Linked DNA regions of Homo sapiens: regions 1, 2 and 3 are each linked to region 4. Evidence: fine-mapped expression QTL. A gene starts in region 4. Each other region holds a variant in brackets. All regions are shown on one strand. Distances are between the middles of the regions.

What was found. PIP is the estimated chance that this variant, and not a neighbour inherited with it, causes the effect.
Region 1: its variant is the best candidate, but not a certain one, in a credible set for the expression of FBXW8 in esophagus mucosa (GTEx, PIP 0.51).
Region 2: its variant is the best candidate, but not a certain one, in a credible set for the expression of FBXW8 in whole blood (INTERVAL, PIP 0.66).
Region 3: its variant is the best candidate, but not a certain one, in a credible set for the expression of FBXW8 in whole blood (INTERVAL, PIP 0.67).

The regions. Positions count from the first base shown.
Region 1 is chr12:116,998,608-117,006,701 of GRCh38, forward strand. The region is part of intron 7 of FBXW8 (F-box and WD repeat domain containing 8); the gene reads left to right. Among named protein-coding and RNA genes, the nearest start is that of FBXW8, 92 kb to the left of the region's middle. RefSeq lists an enhancer at 7,412-7,934. The variant C/G (reference allele first, on the strand shown) is at 4,693.
Region 2 is chr12:116,929,020-116,937,113 of GRCh38, forward strand. All of the region lies in intron 2 of FBXW8 (F-box and WD repeat domain containing 8), which reads left to right. Among named protein-coding and RNA genes, the nearest start is that of FBXW8, 22 kb to the left of the region's middle. The variant C/T (reference allele first, on the strand shown) is at 4,649.
Region 3 is chr12:116,972,671-116,980,764 of GRCh38, forward strand. The region is part of intron 5 of FBXW8 (F-box and WD repeat domain containing 8); the gene reads left to right. It overlaps LOC100506551 (a long non-coding RNA gene), which reads right to left. Exons shown (of 4, transcript NR_103809.1): 3 at 7,580-7,749; 4 at 4,770-6,919. Among named protein-coding and RNA genes, the nearest start is that of FBXW8, 66 kb to the left of the region's middle. The variant TA/T (reference allele first, on the strand shown) is at 3,716.
Region 4 is chr12:116,908,060-116,913,059 of GRCh38, forward strand. FBXW8 (F-box and WD repeat domain containing 8) reads left to right here and starts at 2,891. Exons shown (of 11, transcript NM_153348.3): 1 at 2,891-3,296. The coding sequence starts at 2,979. It also overlaps the pseudogene RPL36P15. RefSeq lists silencers at 2,719-2,938, 3,099-3,358.

The sequences.
Region 1 (8,094 bases), 92 kb after region 4:
TGCCAAATAAGCCTGGGAGTAAACACTGCCCAGGCATTGTTAGTGTTAAAAATCAGCTCGTTCTCCAGTTCATGGGGAGCTAAGGGAGCCCTATTAGAAATGTTTGCCTTTGTTCCAGAGGTGAAAACACGAAAACACTAGTGCTGCAGAAGAGGCTGTGTGCTTCCCCTGCATGTCCAGACAGTTGAGACTGATGCTGGTTTGGGGCAGAGTAGGAGCAAGAGGGCACTCAGCAAATGGCCTATGTGAGTTGAATTTCTGAATATTTAAAACATTTTACTGTTTTCAAAATACACATCGCAGCTTAGACTCACAAAATATTACCAAGTAGAGAACTTTCACTTTTTATTCAGTACATAGATGACTATGATTTATTAATTTCCTCCGCACTTCAGTCTTCTATAGGGCACTGTGTTAGAGAGTGGGTTTGTAATTAACTTATCAATTACTGAGTTGCAGATGAATCCTTCTAATGGACGCAAAGTTACTCTTTAAAGCATTCCCTCGATGTGTTATTAATTTACAGGGTAAATCCCCTTTGTAGAGAGCAAAGGAAAACTCCTGCTCAGCCCACATCTGAGCGGTCGCATCCCAAACTAAGGGACTCAGGAAGAGCCATGAGGCTGAAGGTGCATTAAAATGAGGAAGTGGGCTGTGTCCAGAGAGCTGCTCTGCTGGACCTGGCTTCCAGCCTTAGCTTGCCTCTGCTGCAGGAGAACTGTGCCAGGGACGTGGGATGACCGACTGGCCCCAAACTGAATTCCTCATCCAGATTTCTTTGGGTCTTTGCAGGGTTAGGCCATCTGGCCCGGGTGGCTTCTTTGCACTCTGCTGTTTGCTTGGGTTTGAACTCTTACTGTGATCTCATGATCACAAGTTTTAAAAGTATGTTGAAAATGACATGAAAATAATCCCTCCCCGAGCGCATTTCCCCTTCCTGGCTCGCCCCTGCCCTTTCCCCACCTTTATACTCTTGTGGCACCTGTCCACCTGTCAGTGCCCCTCCTCACGGTCCACTTCAGGTTTTCTCAGAGCACTGGCTGCGTGGCGAGGAGCATGGGTAAGGCCCCGGTGCCCATCTTCAGCCTGGCCTTCTAGACTGTGGGGAGTCAGGCCCCATCTTAGCTCCTAGCTCTCTAGTCCTGTGCTTCCAGAATGAGACCCCTGCTCCAGCCAGGCCAGCGCCATCCTCAATGTGCCACATTCATTCCTGACCGGGGACTGGCACTAGCATCCCCTCTTCCTCTCCTGTCTTGCCATGTCCTTTTGAAAAACAGTCCTACTTAACAGAAGCAGCCTTACAAACTATCTGCCTCTCATTGAGCATCAGAGCTCTGGCCCTGAGCTTGTACAGAACACAGGGTCTGCATCTCATTTTTTTTTTTTTTTTTTTTGAGACGGAGTCTCGCTGTCTCCCAGGCTGGAGCGCAGTGGCGCGATCTCTGCTCACTGCAAGCTCCGCCTCCCGGGTTCTCGCCATTCTCCTGCCTCAGCCTCCCGAGTAGCTGGGACTACAGGCGCCCGCCACCACGCCTGCCTTTTGTATTTTTAGTAGAGACGTGGTTTCACCGTGTTAGCCAGGATGGTCTCTATCTCCTGACCTCATGATCCGCCCACCTCGGCCTCCCAAAGTGCTGGGATTACAGGCGTGAGCCACCGCACCCAGCCTGCATCTCATATTTTCATACCGGCACCGCCCAGCACTATTGCCTCCCCAGATTGGCAGCAATTTGGAAGCAGGAAGTAAGCACTGATAGCTGAGTAATACTTACCACTGTCATGGCTGAAGTTCTTCGTTAGCCTGAAAGGCAGTATAGGTAGAGCACAGGGGTTCTCACATGCCAGCATGCATCAGAATCTACAGGAGACCTGATGAAAACACTGAGCACTGGCCCCACCCCCGGAGCTTCCGACTCAGTGGGTCGAGGGTGGGGCCTGAGAATTTGCATGTCTAACAAGTGCCCAGAGCAGCGGAGGCTGCTAGTCCTGGGACCACACTTTGAGCACCCTGGGGTAGAGGTTTAAAGAGTATGAGCTTTGATACCACCCACCCAGGTTTGAATCCTGGTGCCAAAACTTCCTAACTGGGCAAGAGGTTTGAGCTCCTTAGGGCCCCATATTCTCCTGTGTAAAGGGAGTAAAATCATGGTACCTATCTTACAGCACTGTGGAGGTCAGGTGAGATAACGCATCATAGCAGTGTTTTGCATGTAAGAGAATATTATAAATATTAGCTGTTATTAATAACTATTTTGGTAGGACAGGAAAGACATTGTGATATGGTCACAAAGTGGCGCAGGAATGACACGAGCTGCGCTCCACCTAGTGCCACCTCAGCTCCTTTTGTTGCCCATGTAATTTGGGGCAAGCTACTTAAAATTATTTAAGCCTCAGTTTCTTGATGCACAAAATGTAGGCAGTAGTATTTGTCTTCTCTCCCTCTTGGTGGTTGTGAGATTCAAATGGAAGGATATTCCGAAGGAATTTGTGTGAAAGGCATGTCCTGGGTATTACAAAGAGCTCATATGTGTAGTGTTTGTTTATGTGCAAAATGCTGCTAAGCATGTCTCTGCCAATACCTCATGCACCATGTAGAGTGAGTAGAGGCCGTTATGCCTTAGGGAGCTGGGGGGAGCCCCTGGGTGGACCTGCTGCCCTCCACCAAAGGCCCTGATTATTCGCTGCGGCTTCCCAGTCTCCCCCTGGGGCTATTTGTTTCAGTGATCTGATTTTAGCTGCCTGCCTGCCCTCTTCTAGAAGCTTTTGTCCAGTCTAACTTTGGGCCAAACTAGAAGTTGCCAGGCTAGTCAAAAGAAAATCGATAACCAAGCTAGTGTAATATACTGAATTTCATGTGCAATGTTCACTAAGTCCTGTCGGCATACAGATACTTGTACATTATGAGCATCTCATGGTAACCTTTTCATTTTCAAAATAGTATGCAAGTTGCCTTTAATTTTAAAGAGTTCACTTCATAGTTTGCAGCCTCAGTTTTCACTCCGTAAGATAGATATTATAACCTTCTCTTGGTGATTATTTCCGTGTGTCAGTGTTCCTGGCATTTTGACACTGCCCATGCTCTCTGTGGGGATGAGGCCTGTTGGGAGCATGAAGGAGGGTGTAAGGATTTTCAGCTCCCAGTCAGTCATACATTTGCACGATGGTTATCATCTCTTCGCTGGACTCACTGCTCTGACATGAATATTCCCTGTTTGTGTTATGTGAGCATTAACCAGGTCTTCATGATCACATTTCTTACCCTTACACCAGCACTGAGACAAAAATGATCCCAAAGCAAAGAGAGAACCATATTCTGCTCACTCCACAAAGTAGGCCTGGCCTTCCTTTATTATTCCCAGCACCTACGGACGTGCTGAGAGAGAGAGATTGGCCGGTTTGGATGGTTTTTGCCTGGATTTGTACCCGAGTGTACTCTTGCTCTGTGGGTTCCTTTCAGGCTTAGGTCACAATAGGTGTTGGTTTGGCCTCACTCCGGTCCTTTGTAGACATCTGCCCACATCACAAAGCCCCCATGTTTGGCACAGCCCGCAGCAGTTGGCACTGCCTGCCCGGGAAGAGTCCAGTCCTGGAACAGCGGGGGTTGCAGGTGCATTGGCACGTGGTGGTGGGGAGCGCACACAGGCCTTGCCTACCCAGCGCCTGGCGACGCTCAGCAACACCGTCCCATCCCTGAAATATCTTGGCCTCGTGGGCTTGTCACTCCAATTAAAACTTAAACATGAAAGCGGCTCAGGCTGCTTCTCCCTTTGTGCTGAATTTGAGCATGGACGGTGCCAGAAGCATGTCGTGGAGACTGTTAAGGGGTGCCATGTTGCAGGGAACGTTGAGGGGGTCAGGGATCCATTTCTTCAAGATTTGCATCTTGCCGGTTGCTGCTGCGAAGTGCACCTGAAAGGCAAGCTTCTGTTTGCCAACAGAAAGTCACCTTTGGGATGGTGGTGAAAGTCATTTTCCACATGTTCACAGATACGGCCGTGTTACCAAGCCTCACGCTATGACTTATCTCTGGCAAGGACTTACAAAATAGTCTCTCTGGCTGATTGTCAAAAATTACATCATATCGGAGTAAACTGCTTTTAAATCAGACATCCATTATTCATGTATATTAACTGCATTTTTATTTTTTTATTGGCTGTTTTGTGTATGATTTACTCTTTTGTCACTGGCTCCCCCTCTCCCCAGTTGTCTATCTTTCTCATTCCTGTTTTTTTAAAGTCTTAGCTCATCTGTGAATTTATAGAGACTGTTCACCTAGCTTTGTGCATGAACGTTGATAGGCACACCTTGCATTTTTGTAGTTCAATTCCACGTTTCTGTGGATCTTACTTTTGTTGGGTCAGAATAGCAATGTGGGTCGTTTATGTGAGTAAATTCTACCATGAAGATGTATAGGACTTTTTCTTTTGTATCTTTTGTTTTTTAAAAAGGAGCATCACTAGTCTTGTATGTGAAGATCTGTACTGAATAAAAGTGTACCTGGCACTTAGCAAACAGCTGTATACATTGCAGTTGGTGGACAGCAAATCGACTTTGTGTGTTCATTTGTATGCGTGAAGCCTGTCTTTACTGTAAGGCCAGCATAGCAGTCGCCTGTAAGGGGTAGATACACGCAGACATGTACAGTGTGTATTCATCTGCTCATTCTTTCATCACCTGTATACTGAGCCCCTC[C/G]TATGTGCCAAACACTGCACAGGTATCCAAAGGAGCTTCTGTTCCTTCCAGACAGTGCGGGGGGCGCACCCTGGGCATCTGGCATCTTCCATGGTTATGGTACTTTTTCCTGATTCATGGCATTTGACTGGTTGGAATAAAGACTAGGTACAGATTATTCTATGTATTTAACCCCCAAATCAACATTGTTTTTGCAGACAGCATCTGGATTCTTTTATGCTCATTACTTGAATCTTTGTTGACTATTTCTTCCAGCACCTCAGACCTTTTTTCTGGAATGATTTTCTGTCTCCCAAAAGTGCATTCTTTAGAAGTTTCTTTCATAAGGACTTGGTCACAAGTGTTTTCCGTGTTTCTTTCTTACAGCACCTTCATTTCATCCTTATCCTTGAAAGGTAGTTTTGCTAGTCTTTTACAGTTCTAGCTTGACAGTTATTTTTGCTCAGCCTTTGAGGATATGACTGGTTTTGCCTTCCACTGACACTACTGACGAGTTGGCTGTCAGTCTGTCATTCTCTTTTAGGACTTTCTCTCCTTTTGACTGCTTTTAAGATCTTCTCCTTGTCTTTAATTTTCTGTGGTTTCATGCCAATGTCTCTTTGTATGTCTGGGATTTATTTATTTATTTTTATACTGTCTGGGATTTCTTGTGTGTCCCTCCTTTCAGTTGTAGAGAATTCTTGGCCCTTATCTTACTGGAAATGTATCGCGATGCTCTGCGTGGAGCTCAGGGGAGGTGTGCATGAAGGCAGCTTCTCCCCTCCTCCGTGCTGCTCACTGCCCATTCAGATTTCCCATCTCTCTGTCTGTTGCATTCCGCCCAATTCCTCAACTCGGTATTCCAGTCCACAGTTTCTCTCTCGGACTTATTTCTTGCTTATCTCATCCATTGACTTTTTAATTTCTAGAAATTCTCTGCTTTATTTTTCAAATCTGCTTAATCCGATTTCCTACTTTTTATCCTCTCCCTCTTTTATCTGTAAACATTTTCAGCATGCTTATTTTGTATTCTTTATTTGATCTTGCCTGGAAGTCTAATTCTCCTTGTTTTTCTGTCTCACATATGATATATCACTTCTTGCTGTATTTGGATTTTTTAAATTGTGAGCTAATACTCAGTTGATCTTGATTTGTAGGTTTCTTAAAGGGGCCTGAGTTGAAATTGTTTCCCTCCTGAGAAGATTCTGCCAAGGTACTGGGAGGTATGTTACCAACCCGAAAATACTTTATTAGGCTTGGATTCTTTTAGCCTTGCAGGTGGTGTAAACTCAAACCCAGAACTTGTGTGGGGGCAGACATGTGACTTCAGACTGTTTTCCACCCCGAACTGAACCTGAGGCAGACACGTTTCTGGGTAAGCTCTCTGCACCAATAGATACTTTCCCCATCTTGCTTGCTTTTTACTGAATGTATGTAGCCCTGCAGGGACCCAACTGTAGGTTCTACTTCATGCTGGGCAGATGCTTGGTCTCCTGTTTCCCCAGCTCTCCTGTTTCCCCAGCTCTCCAGGCTCCTGACACTGGAGGGAGGGTCCAAACTAGCCCCTGGCTTGAATGCTCTCTTAACTTCCTGGGTTTCGTGCTCTCTTCATCTGGGTTTCATGCTGTCTCCATTTTGGGCTCCTGTGAATTTCTCTGATTGCTTATTAAACAGAATGTCTGAAGGACTGTTTGATGATAGGCTGAGTCTTATCCAGCATGGTCACTGTTTGTAAATGGCAAGGTTTTCCAGACATTCTTGTCTGCCATGTTGTCAGAGGTGGGACTGTCGGACTGGATGTAGTTGGGGCACTCTGGCATCTGAATAGTATGAAGAGATCTCTGTGGAACCATCTTCTGTTTTGGGTAGGATGGAGCAGTTCCTTTGTACATACCAGCAGCAAGATCCAGGAGTGGAGGAAGGTGTTAAAGCACTAAAAGCAACATCTGAGTATCTTTGGGGTCTGAGACTATAGGAAGCTCTGGATTTGCCTGGCATCGTGTACCAATCAGTGAGCCTCCAAACACAAATGCAGGCACTTAGTGAGATGCGGGAATGTGTAACTGACACTGTACCTGGCATGTACTGCCCTTTAATAATTGCCACATGAATGAATGAATGATAGGATCTCTGTCCCCAGGAACCTTAGAGTTAGGAACCTTAGAGTTGAAACCTAGGAGAGTGTTACAACGTGTAGTGTGATGCGGTGTGGTGCTTGGTAATAGTGCTGCAGAGCCTCCCCTGACCTGCTGGAGTCACCGCCTCCTCCCCTCCAGTATCTGAGAACCACAGATCTGGGGAAGAGCCGGAAGAAGATAAGACACAGGTCAGGGTGACCTTGTCGAAACACCACGTGATGCGTGCAGACAGCAAGGACTGTCAGCACTGACCAGGGGAATGGGCACTATGTGCCAAGGACATCATGGAGAAGAGAGCACAAAGGCAGCTGGAGTGGACGGAAAAGAAGAGAGCAGGCGGTTTAACTGCCTCACTGCCCAGCATCTGGCCTCTGATCACAACTTCCCTGTTCAGAAGAGCCAAGAGCCACATATGTGAGGCAGGTTACTAGGGATCAGAAAAGAAAGTGGGTAGATGGTATCATCTTCAGGAAGTGTAGTCACATCTTCCTCTCGTGCCTCTTCTCTTATACTCCACTCAGCCCAGCACAGCACCTCCTAACCTTTGGCTCTCTTTGCCACTGCCCTTTTTTAAATGGCGGCCAACAAATCATCTTCAATTGAAAAAGCTTTTAAAATGCTATTGTCTTGTAAGGAAGCCTTCCGACTCCTCCTGGGCTCTCTGGACAGACAGTGCTGGGCTTCTGGGGAGCTGAGCCAGCTGCTGGGGTGGCTTAATGCCTGGTGGTGGTTTAATGCCTGTAGCAGGTATTTGAGTATGAAGACTCAGTATTTTGGTAAAATTAAAACACAGAGTTCCTTTCCTCATTCATCAGTATAGGACCAAAATTCTGAGAGGGTAAGGCTCTATCATCTCTTCACAGTGATTTCAGTATGCAAGTGGTTCATGATTAATTATGAGGGTGATAGCCCCCAATTTAGGAAGAGCTTGCAGTGTTAATCCATTTCTTACTGGGTGAAGGAAGAAGTTGGTCTGCCTTGAGCTCACCCCGCCTCCCACCCCCACAGGGACAAGAGCCATCTCTCAGCTCTTTCCTTCACAGTTTGCCTGGAAAGCCAGTCCAGGCCACACCTGGATGCTGCGGGGCCCGCCTGCCCACGGCGGTGGCTGATGCCTCCCAGTTGTTGGGCCTGTAGCTGGTGTCTCCTTCCTGACTCTGGACCACCGCCCCTGCTGCTTAGGACACCAGCTGCCAGGACATGGCTAGAAGATGATCGGTGGGTCTCCTCAGAGAGGCAGGCCCCGTCTATGGAGGAGCAGGACAGCTGACGGTCAGGCCCCAGC
Region 2 (8,094 bases), 23 kb after region 4:
GGTCTCAAACTCCTGATCTCAGGTGATCTGCCCGCCTTGGCCTCTCAAAGTGCTGGGATTACAGGCATGAGCCACCGCGCCCGGCCCCATTGATGGTCTGCTTTCTAAGCAGGGGATGCCAGTGTGGCTTTGGCCACACTTTGAGAGAGGCAAAGGTTTATGCCATTAACATCGTTCTCTTGTTCTCGTCTTTTTGGCCAAGAGTGTGTGATTGATTTTTCTTTTCTTTTTTTGAGACAGAGTCTTGCTCTGTCACCGAGGCTGGAGTGCAGTGGCGCGATCTCGGCTTCCTGCAACCTCTGCCTCCTGGGTTCAAGCTATTCTCTTGCCTCAGCCACCCGCATAGCTGGGATTACAGGCTCATGCCACCACATGCAGCTAATTTTTGTATTTTTAGTAGAGACACGATTTTGTCATGTTGGCCAGGCTGGTCTTGAACTCCTGACCTCAAGTAATCCACCCACCTCAGCCTCCCAAAGTGCTGGGATTACAGGCATGAGCCACTGGGCCTGGACTGATTTTTCTTTTTTTAAAAATTTCATTTTATTTTTTTAAATGGACAAATAAAGTTATATATATGTATCAGGTATAACATGATTTTTGAAATATCTATGCATTGTGGAATGGCTCAGTTGAGGTAACTAACATGTATTACCTCACATACTTATTTTCTGTGGTGAGAACACTTAAAATCTATCTCTTAGTGATTTTCAAGTATACATCATTAACTGAAGTCACTGTGTTGTACAGTAGAGCTCTGAACTTATTTCTCTCATCTAACTGAAATTTTGTATCCTTTGACATCTTTCCAGTGTCCCATCCTGCCCCGCCAGCCACTGGTAACCGCCATTCTACTCTCTACTTCTATGAGCTCAACTTTTTTAGATTCTACATTTAAGTGAGATCATGCAATATTTGTCTTTCTGTGGCTGGCTTATTTCACTTAACATAATGCCCTCTAGGTTCATCCACCATGTTGTTGTAAATGACATGATTTCCTTCTTTTTTTTTCTAAAGGCTGAATAGTATTCCATTGTGTATACATGCCACATTATGTATCATTTATCTGTTGATTCTGTATCTTGGCTGTTGTGAATAATGTTGCAATGAGCCTGGCAGTACAGAGATCACTTTGACAAACTGATTTCACTTCCTTTGGATGTATACCCAGCAACCAGAATTGCTGAATCATATGGTAGTTATATTTTTAATATTCTAAGGAACCTGTTTCCTTAATGGCTGTGCTAATTTCCATTCCCACTAACAGTGTGCAAGGGTTCCCTTCTCTCCATGTCTTTGCCAGCACTTGTTTTGTCTTTTTGGTAATAGCCATTCTAACAGGTGTAGTTTAATTTGCATTTCTCTGATGATTAGTATTGTTGAGCATTTTTAAATATACCTATTGGCCATTTGTATGTCTTCTTTTGAGAAATGTCTATTCAGGTCCTTTGCTCATTTTTAAATTGGGTTTTTTGTCTTCTTGCTATTGAGTTGTTTGAGTTCCTTATGTAATATTTTGGATATTAACTGCTTATGAGATATATGGTTTGGAAATATTTTTTCTCTTTTATAGGTTGTCTCTGTATTCTGTTGATTGTTTCCTTTGCTGTACAAAAGCTTTTTAGTTTGATGTAATCCCATTTGTCTGTTTTTGTTGCCTGTTCTTTTGGGGTCATATCCAAAAAATCATTACCTATACCAGTGTCATGGAGTTTTTCCCCTAAGTTTCTTTCCCATAGTTTTACAGTTTCAAGTCTTATGTTTAAGATTTTAATCCGTTTTGAACTTATTTTTATTTTTTTTATTGAGACAGAGCCTCACTCTGTTGCCCAGGCTGGCATGCAGTGGTACAATCGTAGCTCACTGTAGCCTCAAACTTTTGGGCTCACGTGATTCTCCCACCTCAACCTCCCGAGTAGCTGGGACTATAGGCTCACGCCAACATGCCCAGCTAACTTTTAAATTTTTTGTAAGGACAGGGTCTTGCTTTGTTACCCAGGCTAGTCTCGAACTCCTGGCTTCAAGTAAGAGTTCACTTCTTTATAATAGTGTGAGATGGGATCTAATTTCATTCTTCTGTATGTGGATATCCAGTTCTCACAACACCATTTATTGGAGACTTTTTTCCCCATTGTGTGTTGTTAGCACCTTCATTGAAAATCAGTTGACTGTAAATGCACAGGCTTATTTCTGGGCTCTCAGTTCTGTTTTACTGGTCTATATATCTGTTTTTATGCCAGTGACATGCTGTGTACATTGCTATAGCTTTGTAGTATATTTTGAAATGAGGTATTGTGATGCCTCCAGCATTGTTCTTTTTGCTCAGGATTGCTTTGGCTATTTGCAGTGTTTTGTGTTTTTATGCAAATTTTATCTTTTTTTTTTCCTGTATCTGTGAAAATGTCTTTGGAATTTTTATAGAGATTGCATTTCACTCACTTTGAGTAGTATGGACATTTTGATAATATTCTTCCAATCCATGAACATGGAATATCTTTCTATTTATTTGTATCATCCGTTTTCTCCTTAGTGTTTTATAGTTTTCAGCATACTGGTCTTTAGCTTCCTTGGTTGAATTTGTTCCTAAGTATTTATTTTTGGTGTGGCTATTGTGAATGGGGTTATTTTCTTGATTTCTTTTACAGATAGCTTGTTGTTAGTATATAGAAACTCTACTGATTTTTGTATATTGATTTTGTACCCATAACTGAATTTGTTTATTAGTTTCTTGGTGGAGTATTTAGGGTTTCCTATGTTTATGTTTATATTGTCTGTAAACAGGAACAGATTAACTTCCTCCTTTCTGCTTGGATGCCTTTTATTTCTTTCTGTTGCCTAATTGCTGTGACTAAGACTTCTAGTACTATGTTGAATGGAAATGGTGAGAGTGTGCATCCTTGTCTTATTCCTGAAGAAAAGCTTTCAACTTTTTACTAAGTATGACTTTAGCTTTGGTTTTGTCACATGTGGCCTTTATTGTGTTAAAGTACATTTCTTCTATACCTCATTTATTAAGAGTTTTTATCATGAAAGGATCTTGAATTTTGTCAGATGCTTTTTCTGCACCTGAGGTGATCACATCGTTTTTCTCCTTCATTCTGTTAATGCATTGTATTACATTTATAGATTTCTGTTGATTTTTCGTAAGTTAAATGGGTGTATGATTGCTAACCATTTGGCCTTTGATGGACAACTGTATTCTCTAGGAGACACTGGAGTATCCATTCTCCATAACTGCCAAAAAATTAGTTTGTTTAATGGTTAGCATTTTCATCCCTGGATTCTATACTGCATTTTACACAGGTGTTTACAGCTTCAAGAGCAAGGGTTTGCAAAATTCACTGGTAGGAAAACTGAACATAAAATTCAAAGCACCAGCAAGACTATGAAGTTCAGCATATGAAGGCGGTTTGAGAGTGGTGAAAACTGTACCCAAATTTAGACTCTGGAGCTTGCTACCTCCATGGCAGTTCAGTGAAATCACACATGATACAGGACCATTTAGACAGTTTATGGTGTTCTACTCTTTCTTTTTCTTTGACGGAGTCTCGCTGTCACCAGGCTGGAGTGCAGTGGCGCGATCTCGGCTCACTGCAACCTCTGCCTCCCAGGTTCAAGCTATTCTCCTGCCTCAGCCTCCCAAGTAGCTGGGACTACAGGTGCGCCACCATGCCCAGCTAATTTTTGTATTTTTAGTAGAGACGGGGTTTCACCATGTTGGCCAGGATGGTCTCCATCTCTTGACCTCGTGATCCACCTGCCTCGGCCTCCCAAAGTGCTGGGATTACAGGCGTGAGCCACTGTGCCCAGCCGTTCTAATCTTTCTTTGTGAAGCATTTTGCTTAATCGTTTTTCTACTTGAATATGAATTTGAAAGAATTTTCAATATTCTTGATTATTGTTGTTAGTATTGCTTAAGTGGGGGCATTGGCAGATATTTTTTGATGCGGAGTGTGTGTCTTTAGGAAATGATGGAAATTATTTAAAGGCTAAAATTCACTTAAAAAAAATGTGCTGAAGTGTAAACTGTGCTCAGAGCCTATGAGTTGCATTAAGCATGAGTACCTATATTGTTTTCTTTCCCCTTGGAAATTTGATTTGTTATATTCTAACTTTACACATTGGCCTGCTCCCAAGAGTTGAAAACAAGAGTGTAGCTAAATGAGGCCAATTCCTGGATTTCAGCCTGATGCTGTTAGCCGAAGTCTTGGAACAGGGTCTAATAGCTAGCTGCTTTACACAAAGTCAGCATTAGATGATAAAATCTTCATTCTTGATAGCGAGCTGCTGTTTAAGAAATCATTTCTTTTAACATTGCTTTTTGCTCCCCTGCTTTGTAGAGAGCCATGTGGCTTTCACATCTGCTGCTGGTTTTCTCATCCAAAGAGTTTATCAGAGAAAGATAGAATCTAGTGGAAGAAGAGATCCCCTTTTGGTACAATGGGGCTGCATTACAGGGTAGATTGGTTATGCTGGTGATATTATTCTGCAGGTGTGAACAGTTTAATTTGCAACACAGTAGTCCAATTGTCCACCAGAATTCTTCCCTCTATGGCCAGTTGGATTTGGCTTTTTGTTGTTGTTGTTAACCCAGTTGTTAGAGCACATATATAAGAATAGAAAATATTCTTAAACAGAACCCCGTTAG[C/T]GTACAGTGACTAAGTTAGCTGTGATCTGTGAAGTCAGGAGTTTTATGGAGCTCTTACATGAGAATGACAATAGATGGCCAGTAGTTTGTAGAATTGGCTTTGTTTCATCAATCATTAAAATTAAAACCACAAAGTAATAAAAATAAGTAGCACTTTCATTTGTTTCTTGGGGTGTTTTTATTTTGAAACAGGGAGGAAATCCTTCTGTGGAATGTCCTGCTGCTTTATGATTTTATTTTAGAGGGGCTTGCTTTTTTTCTCTCTCTCCATCTCTCTTTTAATCTAGGTGCCTTGGGATTTTAGTGAAATTGGGCCAGTTATGTGGAATTGGCACCATGAACTAAATGTATGCCCTTGGAGAAAACCTGTTTGCTTAGATCTTTATGCCAAATTGGTAACTGACTAACAGTAAGAAACTCTGTTACTGGGAGGCCTTTGAGATTTAATTATCCCACAAACCATGCCGGAGACTGATTTTGCTTTGACTTTGCCTCCTTTCCATATCCCCTCCTCTTTTTTTTGCTTTTGAGGCTTTATGTTTTGAAAACTGAAGTCCTGCTACATTAGTTTGTGATCTGTGTGTACTTTTGATGCTGAGGTCTCCAGCTCCTTCCTTTCAATAGTTGTCCCTCGAGGGACTTAATCTCTCTGTGGGAGTGTTTCTTGCCGAAACATCTTGAAAACAGTGTAGCTTTTAGTAAGCAAAGTTACTTGTTGGACAGTTCATTGAACAGGTTTGTAATCTTGCTATTTATAATTTTATGTTCATCTTTTTTTGTGCCCACAGGATTCCTGGTATTTAAAGGAGACAATTTTTTAGTCGATAACAATGATACAGTTGTTGGTTTCAAAATTACAAATTGGTTTTTAGGAGAAAAGTAAGTCTGCCATTATATTACAGTGTGAATAATTCTGAGGAGTGATGGCTTTTAGGTATTTACCAATATTCATTTTTTAAACTTTAAAAATTATTATAAATTCATAGGAAGTTGCAAAAAATAGTACAGAGAGTTCCTGTGTACCCTTCCCCCAGTTTCCTCCATTGGTAATATCCCGCATAACTACAGAACAGTAGCAAACCAGGACCTGACATTGGCACAATTCACAAATCTTGTTGATGTCACTAGTTTTACATGCACTTATTTGTGAATCTATGGAACTTTACATGGATGTAGATTTGTGTGACCACCACCGCAGTCAACATGTAGAACATTCATCACGAGAATCTCTTGTGCTACTCTTTCACAGTCTTTGACGGCCACACTGGCCTCAAGTCCTTCCCCGACCCTTTCACCCCCAGCTCCATCTCTAACCCCTGGCAACCACTGATCTGTTCTCCAACTCCATAATTTTGTTTTCAGTTTTTTAATGTATATTTTAGTGCTTTGTATTTCCTAATATGTAATTTTAGGAATTTAGCTGCATAAGTAATGATGTCATGTTTATCAAGTAAAAGATAGAAAAACGTGCATAAACAAAGTAATAAAGAAAAAGAGGGAAGATGCAGAGGTTAAAAACTTGAAATTTATGATAATATTGGTGAGCAAGAAGTAGTTGACAGCAAAATAAATAAGTAATTCTAGAACCAAAGACCAGCATATTAGATTATGGTATTTCAAGTTTCAAGGAAAATGTGATTTTATGTCCATGTAGGAGAAACTAAAATCCAGGTGCTTATAGCTAAAGATCTATAATCTTAATGAAGTCTGTGTGAGTCAGGAATCCATAGCCAAGTGAGGCTGAATTGATTTTCCTGGCAAAAGTGATTCTGCAGACCTGTAGTTGCTGGCAGGGTTCCCTTAGTTCTTCACTTTCACCCTTGCCGCCAGACTTCTCTTATCAGGAAGTTCTGTGGAAGGTTCCTTGTATGCTCAAGACCCAAGTGCCCTCAGGAGTTCCTTTTAATTCATGTGATTGTTTTGGCTGCCTCCTTTAAGCACAAATTTAGGGAAAGGCAAAATCACTCTAAAAAACAGATTGGGAGCTAGATGAAACAAGAATGGCAAATGAACATTGAGCTAAGTGGTGGGTACTTTGGAGTTCTTTATATTGTTCACTTTACTCTTGTGTGTTTGAACTTTTCCACAATTAAAAAGTTTACTAGAAAAAAAAGCATAAAGCAAAATAATACATGTGAATAAGAAGGAGCCTACGGAGGGCAGCACATGCCAGGAGCTGAGCTGTGTCTATGACCTTTGAGAATTAAAAGCAATGCTAATTTTTAAAAAAAAGTTGGACTTACACTTTTATCTCATTTGGTTATTTATATAGAGCTGACTATGTATGTGCGAGGTACTGTTCTATATAGTGAAGACAGCTGAGAATAAAACATAAAAAACCAGCTTCTCAGAGAGCTTCCATTGTATATACAATAAAGACATGATTAAATAGAGTTATCAGATGGCAGTGAGTGCTATGGAGAAGAACAAGACAGTAGAGGTGATATGGGGGTTGCACTTTTGAGTGGCCAGGGAAGACTTTGCAGAGAAGGTGAGCTTTGAGCAAAGACCTGAAGGAGGGGTGAAGGACACTGTGCAGATCTCTGGCAGAGTGGAATAGCAAGGACGAAGGACTTGAGGCAGACACAGCTGAAGCTCATCTGAGGCAGGGTGCGCCTGTTGTGTTTGAAGAACAGCAGGAAGGTCCAAGTGGGTGGTTGTCGTACGCTGAATAATGGCCCTCCCAAATATGCTGACGTCCTAATCCCTGAATCCCACCAGTATGTTACCTTTCATGATAAAACGCCCTTTGCCGATGTGATTAGGTTAAGGATCTAGAGATGGGGTGATTATCTTGGATTATACAGGTGGGTCCAGTGCATTACAAGTCTTGTAAGAGGGAGGCAGGACGTCAGGGAGGAGAGAAGATGCTGTGTTGCTGGCCTTGAAGGTGGAGGAAGGGGCCACAAACCAAGGAATGTAGGTAGCTTGAAGCTGGAAAAGGTAAGAAAACTGTTTTCTTTCTGAAGCCTCCGGAAGGAATGCAGCCCTGCCCACACCTTGCTTTTACACTTCTGGTCTCCGGAACTATAAGCGAATAAATCTGTATTGTTTTAAGCAGCTAAGTTTGTAGTAGTTTGTTAGCGCAGCCATAGGAGACTGATACGGGGATGTGGTGAGCAGAAGGATAAGAGGAGGAGAGGACTCAGGATGTGATAAGCGTTTAATCCATTAAAAGAACTCGAAGTTTTGTGAATAAGATGGGAAGCCTTTGGAGTGCTTTGAGCAGAGGGGTGACAAGGGCTGCCCTACGTTTAAAAAGGGACCATTTGGGCTGCTGTGTGGAGAATCGGTTGTTGGGGGACAAGGACAGCAGCAAGGAGACCAGTTAGGAGGCCACTGAAGTAATCCAGAGAAGAGGATGTGGTGCTTGGGCCAGGATGGCACCAGCAGAAGTGGACAGAGTCAGGATTGTGGATGGGCTGGATGTGGGGACAGAAGGAAGA
Region 3 (8,094 bases), 66 kb after region 4:
GCTTGGAGAAGGAAGGCTCAAGTACGGAAAGGGGATGGCCAGAATGAACCCTGTGGGGCTGGATTGGAATAGGAGGCATCGGTGTGGAATTTATGGTGTTAAATATAGATAGAGAAGTAAACAGAGATGTACATGTATGTCGTATGTATATATGTTTATGTGTGTCCTGGCTTTGTTTGCTGAGAAGGTGTAAGAGCATCAACAGCCCAGCTGTTGAAAGTATCACTATCTACTAAAAGGAACCAGGGATGCTTGGAGAAATGGTGGACTCCAGGGATGGGGCAGTGAAACCACACAGTAAGCCTGGACCATCTGATTGCACTGAAGTGAAGAAGTGCTTGAAGAATGATGACAACATGTCACAAGGACACATAAGTGAGCTTGAAGATGTTCCCACTGGCCAAACCTGGGACAACTGGAGTATCAAAGTCAATATTGATAATAACAGGTTACAACCCATTGAATAAAATAGGAATATATGAGTATATCATGATAAAAATAAACAGATCAATAAATAAAAAGGGAGGAGAGAAAAGTTTCCTTATAGTAGAATGTCAACTAATAAATGCAGAAAGCATGATGGGATTAGAAAATTACACATTGGCAACCATCACAGTAATAATTGATTCAGACAAAAAATCAATTGAGGCTAAAACCAGAGGATAAGAATGGGATGAGGGATGGGGTCTTACATGGTCTCAAAAAATCTCCCCACTAAACACTTACTAATTAAAAGGCAGGAAAAGATAACTCTGCAGTCAGGAAATCTAACAGGAACCGTCTTAATAAAGTGATCACATTTAACATCATCAGTAATGGTAGAATTGATAACCTGTGCCATGTGACACGATGCAGTGAGAAAAAACACAGAATCACTTCTTTGATATTATTCCAGCCAAAAGTGCACAGCCTGATCTAATCACGAGAAAATATCACACAAGCCCAAACTGAGGGACATTCCACAAAATGACTGGCCTGTCCTCTTCAGCACTGTCAAGGTCATGAAACTCAGGGAAGGTCTTAAGAACTATTCCAGGTGGAAAGAGAAGAGAGACCTGACAATGGAGTGCAGTGTGTCATCCTGGCTTGGGTTGTTTTTCTACAAAGAACATTACTGGGACAGTTGGCAATGGGATCTGAACAGTGAGTATATAGAAGTTCTTGCAGCTTTTCTGTAATTTTGAAAGTTTCAAAATAAAAAGATAAAAAATAACGTGTTTTTGAGAAAGATGAAGTAACAGGAACTGGATTTATCTTTCCACCTTAACTAGAAAACCGGACAAAATATATTAAACCATGGTTTCTAGACATTGGAAAATAAGTAGCCCATGGCTGTGATCTCTTGGAGGAGAACAAACATGGTGAGGCCCACAGTTACACCAGCTCACCAGCTGGAAACTCCAAACAAGGAGGGGGACCTAAACAGAGTCTGGTGGCCTCCCTGACTTGAGGAGGCCCCAGTGAGGGCTCAGGGAAGCCAAGGTGGATAGAATTTGTGGGCCAGAGTATTGGGGAAGAGGGAGCTCCCAGAGGGAGAACCCCAGGGATTGGCTGAGGATTCCCTCGAGTCTTTGGCTGAGTCCTACTCTGCACATGTGTAAGAGGAAATACCTGGATCAGGGAAAGAACTACCTGAAAGGAGAAGGCACAACAATTCCTGGAGCTCACATGAGGCTAAGAATAGTTTGCACTTCCCCAAGAGTAAAAAGACCTCGTAATACATGGATTGTTGAGTGGAATCTTCAGAAGGGTACCATGTTTTAGTAATGGGGCTAATTCAGCCCTAGACTAAAAGCTGCTCGGGATCCCCTAAAAAAAGTTGGAAAGCAAGCCACAAAAGGATCCAGCCGATTCTGAGTGTCTTAATTTTGCATCAGAATAAACTTCCATACTATTTTGTAGAATACAACAAAAGCTAGCAACCAGCAATGTAAAATTCACAATGTCTGTCATCCAATAAAAATGAAGCATGGCTGAGGCAGGAGGATCACTTGAGCCTGGGAGGTCAAGGCTCCAGTGAGCCATGATCATGCCATTGCACTCCAGCCTGGGTGACAGAGTGACACCTGCCTCCAAAAAAAGAATATATTGTGTACCCTGGTAACAGTAAGCACAGCTAGTGCCCAGATTTTGGTTTCTAAATGTTCTTCAATAAAAGGAACAAGGGCTAGGGCAGATAAATACAAGATGAATCTGGAACATTTTATGGGACCCAAAAGTAAGGATGTTTAAAATAAATAAAAAGATGAAGGTAGGGCATCTATAGGACAGTAGAACTAAATTGGAGCTCCTGAGGGCTAAAGGAAGGACAACTTGAGCAACAAAACATGATGATAGTGATGGACTATAACCTATGGATAATTAATTACCCATGAGTCCATATTGGTATCAATAAATACTTGAATAAATAAAGGAGAAGAGATAGCTCTTCCTTACAGTAGTAGTTGAATTGCTGTATGGGAAAGGATGATGAAAATAGAAAGCCACCATTTGGCAAGCACCGTAATCATAATTGTCGTAGGCAAGAATCACCAGCGGATGTTAAAATCAATGTGATGAATGTCTCTGTCCGTTTGGGCTGTTATAACAAAACAGTATAAACTGGGTGACTTATAAACAACAGAAGTATATTTCTGACATTTCTGGAGGCTGGAAAGTCCAAGATCAGGGCACTGGCAGATTCTATGTCTGGCGAGAGCCCTTCCTTCCAGGCAGTGCCTTCTCTCACATGGTGGAAAGGGCAAAGGAGCTCTCAGGCACTGTCGTCATGACCTGATCACATCCCAAAGGTCTCATTTCCTGGTACCATCACTTAGGGGGTTAGGATTTTAACACTGAAATGGTGGTAGGGGGGACACAACATTCAGATGAGCAATGAGTAACAGGACATTTGCATGGTGTGAAATTATCACTCCGTAAGAGAAAAACAGTAACTTTACAGTAGAGAAAACTGGCAGATACCACCTTAACCAAGTGATGATAGTTAACATGGCCAGTAATGAAACTTTGATATTATGTACCTCCTGATACATAATGCACTGGGAAGGCACAACACCTTCTGATTTTAAATATGAGGAAACAGCAGACAATTGAGAGGCCTACACAATAAATGAGCAGTACTTTTCAAAAGTGTCAGGGTCATGAAGGACAAGGAATGACTGAGTAATTGCCCCAGATTGGAGTCGATGAAGGAGACATGGCAGCTAGATGCTATGTGGAATTCTGGATTGGATCCTGGACCAGAAAAAATATGCTGGTAAGAGGACAGGTTAAATGCAAATAAAATCTGTAGATTAAATATGTTGCATCAGCGTTAATTTCCTGGCTTCCATCATTCTGCTATGGTTATGTAATAGGTTAACATTTGGGAAAGCTGGATGAAGCTATAACTGGAACTCTTTGCATAATTTTTATAACATTTTTGTAAGTCTGAAATTATTTCAAAATCAAAAAAGACTATCAAATTACAGGATTAAATAAGACTGGATTTTTCCCATAGCAATTTAATGCCATTTAAAAACAATGTTACATGATTACTTAGAAAAGAATGTGCTTGCCGCTTTTCTGCTGTCTGGCTGACTTGGAGGCCTGAGATTAGATGGTACCCTTGTGTTCTTTTGGTGGTGGTTATAATCAGGGATCCTCAGCATTTCTCTTTTTTGTATCTTGCTATTTGTCTTCAAGCTATTCCCCACCTGCACCCTCCCCTTTTCTT[TA/T]AAAAAAAAAAAAAATGCATGATGATGAGTACCTAATCTTTGGTATTTTGTTTCCAAAGGATCCTTTTTTTTTTTTTTTTTTTTTTCAAAACAGAGTCTCACTCTGTTGCCCAGGCTGGAGTGCAGTGGTATAATCTCAGCTCGCTGCAACCTCCACCTCCCAGGTTCAAGCGATTCTTCTGCCTCAGCCTCCTGAGTAGCTGGGATTACAGGCATGCACCACCACACCGGCTAATTTTTTTTTTTTTTTTGTATTTTTATTAGAGATGGCGTTTCACCCTGTTGGCCAGGCTGGTCTCAAACTCCTAGCCTCAAGTGATCTGCCCTCCCTCAGCCTCCCAGAGAATACTTTTTAAAGAATAGTGTAGCCATTTTATTTTAAAATGTCAACATTTACAAACATGCCAGATGTTACGTTTTTGCCACTACTTACAACTTAGGACAAAAAAAATTTATCGGTTTCATATATAAAACGGGAAAGGCAGGCCTTGTTTTTCAAAATCATTTCAGGGGGTAATCAAAAAAGTCTGAAGAGCACTGGTCTGGAAGGCAGGTGGCCATGTGAGTCTCCGTCTCTATTGGGCTCTTGTGATCCACTCTGGGCACAGGGGAGGGAGACCCGAGAGCCCCACCCCAGACATCGGGGCCTTGTGGCAAAACCATCTATTTGTTGGGGGGATTTGCATTGGTATCTGAATGCCCAAGTGAGATGTTAGGCTGTCTGTGGTTTCTGTCTTCTCATTCTTATTTGGTGTTAGGTAACTCAGAACCGACTGCAGTTTCGCCATCATTTAAATCTTTATGTAGACTTTTCCCCCTGCTTTTTATTTGAGCCATTTATTACTTTCCTTGAAAGGGAATTAATTGATAGTATAATTTTAAGATTTTTTTTTCAGGATTTGGAATGGGATTTCTAAAGGCTGCAAAATGTCATCACTAGAATTTTCACCGTAGATCTGAGAAGACACTTAGTCTGCAGTGTGGCTGTTGAAAACGTTTGTAAAACACAAATTAACGTATTTTTACTTTTGTTAGTGATAGCCTTTCAAATGGTTATTCTTAAAAATCTTTTATTGTGAAAAATTCAAAATACACAAAAATGGAACGAATAGCATGATGCACCCCCGTGTACCCATCACTCAGCTTCAGTAGTGATCTTTTTTTTTTAATCTACTACCACCCAGTCCACTGATTCCCCACTCCCCTCCTTAGAGGCATCTGCTACTACCAGTGTCTGCTGATCTCTTCGGGATAGAGTCTATATCATGTGTATATCGGTTATAGAGAACACTGGCCTCAGTCTGAGGCTGCATGCACAGTGATGTCTCTTTCACGTTACCTGCCCTCTGGAACTTTCCCTTGTAGAAGCTGGTCCAAATTCTTTGCCTTCTCCATCAATCTGTTTTTCCTAAGATGTTAACTGGAAATTCTTCTATCTAGTCACATTGCCATAGTCTTAACAATATACTATTTGCCTCCTTTTCAGTCTGCTGTCTCGTCATTTTTCATTCTTCTTTTTCAGGTGTTCTTTCTGCTTTGAATTTGAGAGCTACTAAATATATTCAATCTTACTTCCTCTTCTCTTGACTCAGTTTCTATTTTGGTGATCTCGCTGCTTTGTTTATGCCCTAACCAGTCGCCTCCTCCATAAGCCTATTCAGATTCTTTTACTTGTCAATCTAAAATGCAGATTCCAGAATGTTTTCTGTTTATTTTCTGCCTTAGGCAACAGAGCTGTAGCGCTGTGGTCAGCGGGAAAGCAGGATGGCATGCCACAGTAGCTGCAGTAACAAGAAACTTCAGCCTTTTTCCTTTTTCGTGACCCTCCGTGGTTTAGCTGTTCTTTATGACCCTTGTCTACACTGATACTAATCTCCCACCGGCACCTCTTCCATGAAGAGCAAAAACTTTTGTCCTGTCCAACTTTATGCTAGTTTTATGTCTCTGGCCTGCATTTCAGAGTGGTGATGTGTGGACTTAATGAACAAAGAGGTACGTGTTAAGTCAGTGCTATGGGTATATTTAAAATTTTTGTCAAAATGCCTTTTCCTTTGTTGCAGAATTTCTTTTGACTCCTGATTAATTTCTGATAGGCAAGTGTTTATTTACATGGTAGAAATTGAGATTGCCAGCTGTCTTTATTATAAATAGTCAACTTCATTCAGTATCTCTGAACGCAGTTAATTGATCCTGTCTATTTAACGATCATGAAGTTGACACCAAGCTTCAGGTGTTTATTGTGGAAGCTCAAGAGGATGGGAGCTCGCGGCTGAAATAATTTCTAATCAAGAAACCACTAAAGACCACAAGACCAGCTCTGTAGTTGAAGAAGGGACTAGTCTATGACCTTTCGAAACTGTTAACCTGTTTTAAATTTTGTGGTGCATGGAAAAGATCAAAGGGGAGGGAAGAGTATACCAATTGTGTTTTTTTTCCAAAACCAGTTCAGCAGTTATTTACCTTTCAGGCAATTAACATAATTACCATTATGCTAAAAAGTAATTTTGGAAAGTTCTGCCCTGAGCTCTTATGACTCCACCGGGACAGTTTTAGTTGGGACTTATCTTTTTGATGGAAGCTTAATTGCAATTTTGGCTTTGTGCACACAAACAGAAGCAGCTAATTGTTTAGGCAAATAGCAGATTAATTTAAATATGCATCCCTAATAAAACAAAAATGGTATCCATTATGGTCCTTGTTCCCATGACGAAGAATATAAATATTCTGTGCAAGTACCATTAGACAGAGGTCTTAAGGATTGTCGACATTATTTCACAGTGGTAGCACTTTCCAGATATCGAGTAATCTTTACAAAAGCTAACATAAATCAGTTTAAACTCATTTAGATCCCATTTCCACTATGTGCAGTTTCATTACCACACTCTGGCTGGCCTCCTTAGGGAGGTGGGAGGGGCCTGCTGCAAACTGGCATGGGTGCCCATCCACAGCTGCTGAGCAGGCTTTATGTCTCCTCGAAAGACTGGCCATCGTTACTCATGTCATCGTTAATGGCTGTTACTGGTCTAGGCTGAGCTCAGAGTTCCTTCAGCCTGGCTGCTGCTTGTCAAGGTGGAGGGTCCTGAGCCCAGGGAGCAGGTGGGAGTGCCAGGCCCTGCCCCTTCTCCTTTATTGGGCCAGTGGTCCTCACTTGTCTTCTGGATGTTTCAAGAGACCCAGTTTCTTCTTTTGTCTGCATCCTTTTCCTGTTTGTTATGAGTGAAACAGTATTGTTGCAATCCCAGCACTACTCAGAATTAATCATCTTTTATCCAGCTATTGAGGTTTGGTCAGGAAGGAAGAAAAACACCTGCTCTTTCTGTTTCTCTAGTGTGGGGCAAAATGGGGGCTATAAACTCTGGCCTTCAGGATGATGCCTGGTGCAGGGAATGGCAAAAAAAAAAAAAAAAAAACACTTGCTTCTTATGCCACTGCCAAGAAACCAAGTAGAACCTCCCTTTGTGTTTGCTGAGACTTTTTCTCTTGTTTTACCTTGGCCTACTGTGCAGGAGAGAAGTCGTAGAGATCTTTGGGCAGGGGGTTGTCTCCTTGCCCTGAGGTCCCTCCCCAGGCCCTCTCCAGGTGGGCATGTTCATAGTATTTGAGTTAGTCTTTTGGCCTCAGCTAATTGGATGAGGGATGGGGCCCCAGTTCTTGGGGGAAGCTGATTCATGGACTGGGATGGGCTGGTTGGGACTCAAACTTTGTTGCATTCTTGGAGTAGAAGACCTCCTGGAATGGGGACAGCCACCTTTCTCCATGTACCCAGGGATGAGAGAAAGCTGGTTTCCGAAAAGAAGAATGAAATAGAATTGCAGAGAGAAGCAGAGATAAGATCTGTGGTGCACACAAGTTACATACACTACCTTGGTTCTGCATGTCTTCCTGGTTCCTGGTTCTGATCCCTTATCACCTCCAGCTGTACTTCCTGCCCTTGGGCTCCATGAAGTAGCCTCATTCCTTTCCAGTCAGTTTCCTTTTTATGTTTAAGCCAGTTTCAGTGGGTGTCTGTTTCTTACAACCAAATGTTCCATTGCTGAAACATATGACAAGCATTAAGCAAACCTTTATTGATGTACAGCCACATCCAGCACTGTGAATTCCTTACCATAGGGCATAGAGAGGGAAAAGGACACAGTCTTGCCATTTCACAAGTTCACAGTGTCAGGAGCCAAATCCATTTCATTGCTAGGTCCGCAGTATGATAACACTTGACCTTTCAAATGAATTTATATCAGATTTAAAAAAAAATACCTATTTGAGAAGTGAATTTCCTTGACCCTGACAGGCATTAACTACTTCTTCCTTAGTAGTTATGCAATAAATGCAGACTTGGTTCAAGTTAAAACATCTAGAAAAGTTTGCTGCTCCTTTTCTGGGG
Region 4 (5,000 bases):
AGACCCCATTTTTTTTAATTCCAGTTTGCTTTCTGTTTTAAGTGTTAGATGGTCCATAAAATCTAGAGATACCAGAAAAGTGATATTTGGCTTTTGACTTGCAAGTAGATAATCAAAGTAAGTATGACCTTTGGATTTCACATGGAAGGCACATGGGATGAATGGGATGCTAGCGGAATGGGGAAAAATTAGCTCGTTTTTATTTTTATTACAATAATATTTATTGGCAGCAGCCACTGATGAGCAGCAGCCATGTTTCTGTGGTCTCCCATGTCTGTGGGTCTCAGTGAGGGCCACAAGGTGAGGACCAAGAATGTGAGCAAGCATGGCCACTGCTGCCACCGCAGGCACCCCACCAAGCACAGAAAGTTCGTGTGGGACATGATGTGAGAGGTGTGTGGCTTTGTTCTATATAAGTGATGCACCTTGGAATTGTTCAAGGTCTCCAAGAAAAAGTGGACCCTCAAGTTCATCAAGAAGAGAGCGGGGACACACATCTGCACCATAAGAAGTGAGAGGAGCTGGGCAATATCTTGACCTCCAGGAAGCGAATGGCTGCCAAGAAGAACTGAGACTTCTTCCCCTTCTGTGTATAATAAAACCTTTACGGAAAAAAAAGAGAATGCTTACTTGTATTGGATGCTTATGTTCCATCTTGCATCACTTCACTCATCTTTTACCTTAGTCACTGCTGTAGCAACTGGCTTTGTGCACGTGTAACCTGACAGTCGTTCCTGTTAGCTGCACAGTGTACCTCCTGCTTTTTGCCCCAGAGCATCTCTGCTGCCTTGGTACGGAACATCCATGATAATCCGTTTACTTATACCCAATCTAGAAGTGGGAGGTTGTTAAAGCTCCTTGGCTTAGCCTTTCTCTAGTAGGGGATGAGAGTCACTGGACAAATGCTTTCCTCTTCTGGCTCTTATCTCTTGGGAGGACAATTCTGAGCTGTGTTCTAAGGCTCCTTAGAAGGTGCTAATGGAATGAGCCTAAATTGCCACAGTAGGACCAACTCAGAGATGCTCTTTCTTTTTTTTGTTTTTTTGAGACAGAGTCTCGCACTGTCGCCCAAGCTGGAGTGTAGTGGTGTGAATATACGCCCAACCATATACTCTAATTTTCTACAGTGAAGGTTGTCCAAGCCTGGTTTCCCACAGTAAGCAAGCCTGAGCCCTGGGTTTGTAGGCAGCTAGTTTATTTACAGAAGTGATTCTAGAGAAGAGGCCTGAGAGACTAAGAAGAGTTAGACAAGGAATAAGGGACAGTTAATTGCAAGAGCATCTTTGAGCCTGGAGTGGTGGCTCACACCTGTAACCCCAGCACTTTGGGAGGCTGAGGTGGGTGGATCACTTGAGGTCAGGAGTTCAAGACTAGTCTGGCCAACATGGTGAAACCCTATCTCTACTAAAAATACAAAAACTTAGCCAGGTGTGGTGGCGGGCACCTGTAGTCCTAGCTACTCAGGAGGCTGAGGCAGGAGAATGGCGTGAACCCGGGAGGCGGAGCTTCCAGCGAGCCGAGATCGCGCCACTGCACTCCAGCCTGGGCAACAGAGCGAGACTCCGTCTCAAAAACAAAACAAACCAAACAAACAAACAAACAAAAAACCATTTATTGAGCATGTATTAATCACCAGTCTCAAAGCTAAGAGTTGCCAATCTAGAAGGGAAGGGATATATATATATACATAAAAATAAAATTACAAATTGTGTTATGTATTATGATGAGAAGTACAGGATGCTGTGAGAATGAGTAACAGGGATACCTGATGTTTCTTGAGTGGAGGTTGGAAGATTAAGTGAAATGTGAGTTGAGATATGAAAGATGTGTAGGAGTTAACCAAGTCAAGGTGGGGGGAAAAGTTCCCTGCTGAGGGAATATCAGGTGCAAAGAAAACATTTTTAAGTGGAACGCCATCGTATGTCATTTTCTTTCCCATCTTAAAGCCCTTGGATTTCCTTCTGGAAATCTCTCTCCTAAGATCTGACCTTCCCTTGGCTGGTTTCTCTTTCAGATTTTTAAAAAAAAATTTTTATTTCCACAGGTTATTGGGAACAGGTGGTATTTGGTTACATGAGTAAGTTCTTTAGTGGTGATTTGTGAGATTTTGGTGCACGCATCACCCGAGCAGTATACACTGAACCCAAGTTATAGTCTTTTATCCCTCCCCACCTTCCCACCCTCCCCTCGTCCCCCTCCCCTGTTCCAAAGTCCCATAAGTCATTCTTATGCTTTTGCATCCTCGTAGCTTAGCTCCCACTTATATGTGAGAACATACGATGTTTGGTTTTCCATTCCTGAGTTACTTCACTTAGAATAATAGTCTCCAATCCCATCCAGGTTGCTACGAATGCCATGAATTCATTCCTTTTTTATGGCTGAGTAGTATTCCACCATATGTATATATCAGTTTCTTTATCCACCTGTTGATTCTCTTTTAGATTTTAATTTAAATAACATCTTAAACAGACTTTCACTATCAATCCTTACTCCCCTTACCTTACCTTATTTTGTTTTCTTCCTAATACCTATCACTGATTTAAATGTTCATATTTCTTTGTTTAAAGTCTCCCTACTTAAACGCATGCTCCAAGACGTCAGAGTTTTTGTTTTGTTTTACAGATTTAAATGCTGAATTCTTGGTGCCTGGCATATAGTAGTTGCTGAATGAATGTTTGTTGAATGAAGGAACAATGCTTGGCGCAAAGTCAGAGCTTAGCAAAAGTGATAGGCAGCAGAGCTGACGGGCTGAGGGGCAGCTGCGTAAACCTCTGCTTTGGGCGCCACAAGCCACAAGCCGGACCACCACGTGCGTACAGGGGCAGCGCCGGGGGCGTGGCGGGGGCGTGGACGCCCACCCGGAACCCTAGAGCGGCGGCGGCAGCGGCTTCCGGCCGCGGCGGACACTTCCCTGGGCGGGACTGTCTCGTGGCACCCGGTGGAACCGAGGAGAACGTGGAGCGCCGGGAGCGGCGAATATGGACGACTACAGCCTGGATGAGTTCCGTCGGCGCTGGCAGGAGGAGCTGGCGCAGGCCCAGGCGCCGAAGAAGCGGCGACGGCCCGAGGCTGCCGAGAGGCGGGCTCGGCGGCCGGAGGTGGGCTCCGGGCGCGGCGAACAGGCCTCGGGGGACCCGGCGCTGGCCCAGCGTCTCCTGGAGGGCGCGGGGAGGCCCCCGGCGGCGCGGGCGACTCGGGCCGAGGGGCAGGACGTAGCGAGCCGCTCACGTTCTCCTCTGGCCCGCGAGGGCGCCGGGGGCGGGGAGCAGCTGGTGGACCAGCTCATCCGCGACCTGGTGAGTGGCCGTCGCCTCCCCCCCGCCCATGCCTGCGCCGGCCCCCGCCCCCAGGACAAACCCCTGCAGTGATTTGGAGAGTAACTGTGTGCCACTAGTTGCCCGAGAAAATGAGTAGACGCACAAACACCAATGTTTGTGCTTGCATAGGGGTCTTTCTGGAAGCAGCACTTCCCAACCAGGGCGATTTTGTTCCCCCAGATGTGGCAGTGTCTGCAGACATTTTTGGGTGCCTCATCGGGGTGTGTATGTGTGCATGTTACTGGGCATCTAGTGGGTAGAGGCCAGAGATGCTCCTGAACATCCTACAGTGTACAGGACACCACGCACAAAAAAATTATCCAGGACAAAATATCAGTAAGTGTGGGGTTGAGAAATCCTGCTCTTGAAGGCTACCTAAACTTTGAACAAAGGTTGCCTTTGAAAAGGAGGACCCAGATGATGGATAGGAAGTAATTTTACCTTTGTATACTGTTTGCACTATTTAATTTTTGTAACCGTGCACGTATTCAAAAAAATTATCTCAGAAAAAAAGGAAGAAGAGGAGGAAGAATCTCCTGGGCACTTTCATTAGGATAGAGTTTCTTATCTTTTTGTGGGGCGTGGATACCTTGGAGAATCTGGAGGAAGCTGGGGACCCTGTGTCCGTTAAAAATAATCCCCTTCAGAAAGTTGGGAAAATCAAGAACACCTGAAATGCATCCGTGGCTCCCAGGTTAAGAGGACAAGGCTCCAGGTTCTAATGGTTTGATTTAAATTAGGCCCAAAGGAAGTCCCTACAGCTTTACAATTGGGAACCCACTTTTTTTTTTCCTGTTTTTTTTTTTTTTTCTTTCTTTCTTTCTTTTCTGAGACAGGGTCTTGCTCTGTTGCCCAGGCTAGAGTGTACTGTTGCTCTCCCGGCCCACTGCAGCCTCAAACTGCCTGGCTCAAGCCATCCTCTTCCCTCAGCATCCCGCGTAGCTGGGACTACACGCATGCGCCACCACACTCAGCTAATTTTTTAAATTTTTTGGTAGAGACAAGGTCTCCCTGTATTGCCCAGTCTGGTCTCAAACTCCTGGGCCCAAGTGATCCTCCCAATTGAGAATCATTCTTTTTTTTTTTTTTTTTTTTTGAGACGGAGTCTCGCTCGCTCTGTCGCCCAGGCTGGAGTTGCAGTGGCGCGATCTCGGCTCACTGCAAGTTCCGCCTCCTAGGTTCACGCCATTCTCCTGCCTCAGCCTCCCCAGTAGCTGGGACTAACAGGCGCCCACCACCACGCCCGGCTAATTTCTTTTTGTATTTTTAGTAGAGATGGGGTTTCACTGTGTTAGCCAGGATGGTCTCGATCTCCTGACCTCGTGATCCGCCCGCCTCGGCCTCCCTAAGTGCTGGGATTACAGGCGTGAGCCACCGCGCCCGGCCGAGAATAATTCTTTTAAGTGGCAAGCTGTTTCAAGAAATAATGGCCTATTATTTTATGTAATATGTAGTTTACTCAAATAGCATTAATAGCTACTATTTGAGTTTTTACCAAGTGTTTAGTCCTGTGCTCTGCCCTAATTCGAATATAACAATCCTGTGAGGTAGATTTTAACTCTCCTTTTACAAATGAAGAAACTCAGAGATTCTCTGTAACTTGCCCAGCATTACCCCACTGATAGATTCTGGGGATTGAATTTGGATCCAGGTCTTTTCAACTCCAAGTTTCACCACGTGAAC